2 separate regions of the Homo sapiens genome follow, and region 1 is linked to region 2. The links come from fine-mapping of genetic effects on gene expression. A gene starts in region 2. The other region holds a variant in brackets. All regions are shown on one strand. Distances are from middle to middle.

Region 1 (2,910 bases), 47 kb before region 2:
AGTGGGCAAGCCATGACTTGGCCCCTGGTAAACTCTGGAGATGTCACAGTGAATTGCTATGCTATATGGCCTCCTTCAGGCTCATTGGGAGGGTTGAATGAGAAATTCAATATGCAGCAGGTCTTGGAACAGTGCCATTTGTTCAACGTGGTTTTGTTATATGACTGGGCCCTGCAATAGGATGGCCTCCTGGCCAGGGTTAGGTCCCTCTTTGCACTCTGAGCTGTCAGAATAGGCTCTGGCCACCCGTGACCCTGAACTGCAATAATTGGGTAATTATCTTCCTTGTTTTTATTAACGTTTCTTAAATGTATGTATAGCTCACATTTATTTTAGCTTTAGTATTAGAAGTGTTTAGGGGGTCTTTATTTTGAAGATTGGTGAGGTCTTCGTGATGTTATAGAAACTTAACTCTTGTTTATATCAATTAGCCTGTGGGAAAATTGGTTTCATTATATGTCATGTTGCTTATAGCCAAAGTTTCCAAGAAACTATCTAGGACATTAAATGAGAACTTAACTGTGTAACACTTAGTCCCTGGCACATGATAAAGGGTCAATGTTAGCTGCTACTATTAAACTATTGAAATGAAAATTCAGTAATAGTGTAAAGTCAAGAAAAGAACAGGATGCAGAGAATGCTTATTTTCTGACTTAGAGATTTCTGAAGGTGCAAAGTGTAAAAGTCATGACTATTCTGTAAAAATAGAAGAAAAACTTTCCCCATAAAGTAAAAACTGGTAGCATCCAATATATTACAGTCCTTCTCATTGTACCAAGTGGTCAGAGATTACAAGGCTTACAGAAACTTTGTATTATGCACCCTCTTGCTGCCTCCACTGGTGAGACAGTCAAGTGTTAGTCTTCCAAGTTGAAATGGAAAATAGATCGTCTCCATGGAATATATCAGTATTTTCTCTTCATGTTAAGTCTTAGTTCCAAACCACCTCCCCGGACAGTCGGAAATCCCACTGGCTGGAGGAATAAATAAATTCCTTATCTTGTCAAGGAAGCTCCTCCCAAGCTACAAAAGTTGCAGACAGCAAAGGGATCAAGTGACCCCAGAGATGAAATCTGTGACTCTCTGGTGGAGCAACATGATAGTAATAAACAAAGGTTGAGTGCCTGCTGTATAAAGCAACCTCTGGAGTGCCTGATATCTACTAACTCTTTTAGCACCCACTCGACCCTGTGAGATGCGTATTACTTTATTGTATCTACCACTGTAAAAAAGAATGAACCAAG[C/G]TACAGCAATATTATGTTGCTTGCCCTGAGTCACACAGCTGAGTAAGTCACAGGAGTTTGTGCTCATAATGACTTTGCTATGCTGATGTTTGAACCTGGAACCATTCAGCAACCCTCCAGCTAATATGGCTCCATGCTCTACTTCTGGAAAAGCTGAGTTCCTGCAGCCTTGTCCTACATCACCCAAAAGAGCTGGAAAAGAATGCAGTGAGTTCCATTCTATTTGTTCCGAGAATAGGAAAGCCACATTGAAGCAATATCTTAAAGAGAAATCTATAGTTAGGAGTGATGAAGATTTGAAACAGATGTCAGCAGAAAGAAAAAGGGAGAGGCACCATGATAATTATACTCAGTGATGCTTTTTAAATGACATATATTCAGTTAAATATAGGGAGGTTTGCTGCTAGCCATATGAACAAAGCACAAGAGAATTCCTGGATCAAGGCAGACTTAAAGAGACATTGAAAAAAAAACAAAATTCAAAATTTTGACCTAGTGCAGGAAGAAGTGCAAGTACAGGGGAAGTGGAGGGAAGGAGTGGGGAGGCTGGCACAGAGATGGCACGGGCAGATACGAGCAGATTGACTCGCCAGGACTGTCATTGGGCCACCGCTCTTAGCAGGAATTTCACCATTGAATGACCTAATTATTGTCTTGGGAAAAACACAAGAGCTCCTGTCCATAACAGGATAACAGATGTATTTCAGTGGAGCACAGAATAGGCCGGATGGTGACTAGCAAGAATAAAAGCCCAAGTGGACTGAAGAATCCATCCAAGATATGGTCAGGACGGGCTTGTGGAAAACTTGTGCAATAATGAGAAGAAATGTTATTTGTCACTACCTTTTTTAGGCAGCTGTGTGGATAAACCTACTTTGGGGTAGGAGCTGAGCCTCAGGCCTGTGACCGCTAGAAGCCAGACTTGAAGCCAGGAAAGAGGCCGCTCTTCCCAGGAGTTGGGAGAATTTGACTTTGGTGTAGAATCCAAAAGGCGGGAGAGAGGGTTCCAGGGAGGAGCTGGGGGTGGAGGCTAAAAAAGGAGCCCTGGTTGCCAAAGCCAGGAGGTGACTTTACAGGAGAGCAGCAGTGACTAAGCCAGGAAGTGACTTTGCGGGAGAGCAGCAGTGACTAATTCAGGAGGTGACTTTGCGGAAGAGCAGCAGTGACTAAGCCAGGAGGTGACTTTGCGGGAAAGCTGCAGTGATTGTGAAGTTGTTCACATACAGGGGGTCATGGGACACCCTCTACGATCTCCCGTGGGAAATCCTCAGTAAGCACTCTCACTCTAGCAATAAGCACTCTCACTCTAGAAAGCCCTTTTGGTGCTTCCAGTCACATTGCCTGGCCCACGCTCGGTGAGAGCTCACATGCGCTTCTGGTCCTGGCCTTCTCAGACGCCACAGTAGCTGCCCACCCTGCAAAAGACCTGGAAGGGGAGGGGAGCCTGTGCCACAGCAGCCAGAGGATGAATGTCCTGTCATGAACAATTCCTGGGGGCACTATGTACATTTTGTAGAAGTCCTGCCAGAATGGAACCTTGCTGTCTACAGCAGCGACCTTGATAACACATCATTTGATTTTTCCTCCTTTTGTGACTCATGCTTCTGCTACCTCACCCTGGCTTCCTGAGATCACCTCCCAGATGAACTCCCTGCACTGAATTCTG
Region 2 (2,910 bases):
TTATTTTATATGAAGCACCATCACTCAGATTTATTTCTTAATCCAGTTCTCCACCTCCTTCATTGAGATAATATAATAGAGGGTTGTAAGGGGGCCCTGAATGGGAGAAAGGATATATGGATGCAGAAGGAGATGCCACAAGATAAAAGCTGAGAGAGCTACTTCAATAAAAACTCTGTGAACTCTCCCCTCCCACCGTCTCTTGATAATAGCCTAACACTATTTGACAAAAGGTAAAGAAAGGCATTCTCTTTATTCTGCAACATGACCTTTGGGGGGTTTCTGTGCATCATCAGGGCAGGGTCAAGCAGCATCCAACCATCCACAGGTGAAAAGGCATGGGGCCGGGGGGAGGCGGGAGTGCTTCTGAAGGCGCGGGTGGGTGGGTTTGTGGGGCTGGAAAAGAGGAATGAAACCAGATGCCACAATGCAACTGCTCTCTCTGGTCCCTGAGCCCTCCTGAGACACTCCCAGGGGTTGCTACGAAACATGATCAAGAGCTGTGGGTTCAGCAATTGACAGAAATGTATCAAATCACTAAGCATTTCTTGCTTGCCTGTTACACATTGGGCATGGTGTTAGCAATGGTGACACAAAGATGATAAAGACGTCGCTGATCTCAAGTCCTTGTCTGGTTCAACCACGTGCCAAGACATTTTAATACTCTGTTGGGAATTCTCAGGCAGCACAGGCCCAGGCGTTAGCAAAGCAGCCAGGGATTTCAGACAGAGGGTGCCATCCAGGGTAAGAAAATGAACTTTTTGTGTCACATTTGCATTTTCATTCCTTAACTAAGAGTATCTGAAAATACTGATGGCACAAACGAACTAAATTCCTGCTTCAGCACCAAATGGATGAACTACTACGGTTTAAGCATTGAACTAGTCCTAATATCACCATTCCAGAAATGTCTTAGTATTAATCAGGACAAGAAATAGGGATCTCTTTCGCAAGAAGCGAGACTGCACTCCTTCCTTTCCTTGTATACGGAAAGGGGACAAAATCCACAGTGAAAGGCCTAGAAGCGGCGCACTCCGCCCACGGGCGGCCCACGTGTCCACCTATTCCGCACCGCGCCCTGTCCCATCCCTATGGAGCGGGGTCTGCCAACGCTCGCGAGAGCCCTCTCGGCTTCCACGTTTGCCACGTTCCAAAGGACCGAGACAAACTGGAAAGCCGAAAGAGGCTCGCGCTCACAGGCAGCTGCGTAGCGCCCGAACAGCCCTAAGTGAGCAGGGGCGGGGAGCGCGGCAGGGTACCGCCGCCTCGTAAGGGCCCTTGCGATTGGGTCCCAGGCGCCGTCACTCAGCCTTCCGGGGGCGGGGCGAGGCCGGGAAGGGGCGTGGCCGTCGGGCGGCGAGCCGCGCGCTCTCGCCCCGGGAGGGAGTCACAGGTTCGTACACGCGAGGCCGGGCGCGCGCAGCCGGCAGGCGGGTGAAGTCTTCCCAGGTGCTGCAGGCGGTGCTGAGGCACAGGGTCTGCTGCAGGAGCAGCGGCCCGAACCCGCTCCAGCGGCCCGCCGCCGCCAGCGGTTCCCGCGTCGCGTGTGTACCCCCGCGCACTGAAGGAGGTCCGCCAGCCCTCACCAGCCCCCGCGGACCGTGCAATGGCCCAGCGTAAGAATGCCAAGAGCAGCGGCAACAGCAGCAGCAGCGGCTCCGGCAGCGGTAGCACGAGTGCGGGCAGCAGCAGCCCCGGGGCCCGGAGAGGTCAGAGGCCCTGCGGGGCGGGGATCTGGGGCCTCGCCTCGGGGTAGGGAGCCGGCTGGCGCGGCGGACGCTGCGGGTGCATCTCCCCAGGTCCCACCGCGCGCCGCCTCCATCCCCCGCGACGCTCCTCCTTTAGGCGCGCGGGGCGGAGGCCGCATTCGGCGGGCCTGGCGGGCGGGCGAGGGGCCAGGCGGACCGGGGTCCGAGCCCTCGGGATGCTAGTCTCGGGGAGCCCCTTCCCAGCGGTTCCTTCACCTGCAGGGCGCAGCCGAGACAGAGGTTGCTGAACGACTGTTTCTTGGCTTTCCGTGGAATTGAACATGGGAGTAAGAGAACAATTTATCGTTTGCCTTGCGTGTTTTGGGGAGTTGAAAATGAGCCAAAGTCAGGGAAAGTGAGTTCCTGCCTAACCAGCAGCGTTTCAGAGCAACTCAAAGGAGGTGAAAATGGGGGCGCCGGGGGGCAGGGGGAGGGAAGAAGTTGGGAGTGATTTGAATGCTCTCAGAAATTATTTTAAATATTTTTGCTTGTATGTAGCTTTCTTAATATGCGTTGCAGTTGCCTTTAAAATAGAATGTCATGAAATACTGAACGAGCGTCTGTATTTTTACCACTTTTACTTAAAATAAAAATCGATTGGATATTCACCTTTCTCCTCGTCCGTGTGCATATCCAGCAGAGAGAACAGATTTTTAAATCTGTTTCGTCTCATATTTCAGTGATTCTTGGTTTCTTTTATACTTCCTTTGACTCATATTTGGGATATTGAAACTGCAATACACATGTGTATGGAATGTGAGCTGTAAACTTCACTTGAAGTGATTTAGACTCTTTGTTTTCTGAGATCTTCAGATCATGCATTCATAATATACCAAGAAAATGAATCAGCTATAGTCAAAGAAGTATTTTCTTTATAGCACTTGTCACTATCTGAACTTGTCTTATTACTTTCATGTGTGTTGTCTTTGGCTCATTCTCTCTGTATCCCCAGCTCCTAGAATGTTCCTTTCCCATAATAGGTGCTCAATAAATATTTGAGTAGTGAATGAATGAATGGATTTAAATGGGGAAAGTAGTGCATTAAATCCATTGCACAAATTTACATTCTAAGGACTAATATTTGTATTCTAAAAGTAAAGATGTAGACACAGTTTGAAGTTCAATGCAAGCATATTAATTCACCTTTGACATAAGTGAAAGT

The links.
Region 1: its variant is fine-mapped to the expression of ASPH in whole blood (INTERVAL, PIP above 0.99).

What each region holds. Positions count from the first base shown.
Region 1 is chr8:61,759,784-61,762,693 of GRCh38, reverse strand. No RefSeq gene overlaps it. Among named protein-coding and RNA genes, the nearest start is that of LINC02842, 24 kb to the left of the region's middle. RefSeq lists an enhancer at 1,718-2,910. The variant C/G (reference allele first, on the strand shown) is at 1,245.
Region 2 is chr8:61,713,068-61,715,977 of GRCh38, reverse strand. ASPH (aspartate beta-hydroxylase) reads left to right here and starts at 1,386. Exons shown (of 25, transcript NM_004318.4): 1 at 1,386-1,709. The coding sequence starts at 1,607. MIR4470 (microRNA 4470) reads right to left here and starts at 1,190; the gene lies at 1,119-1,190. RefSeq lists silencers at 1,177-1,546, 1,587-2,016.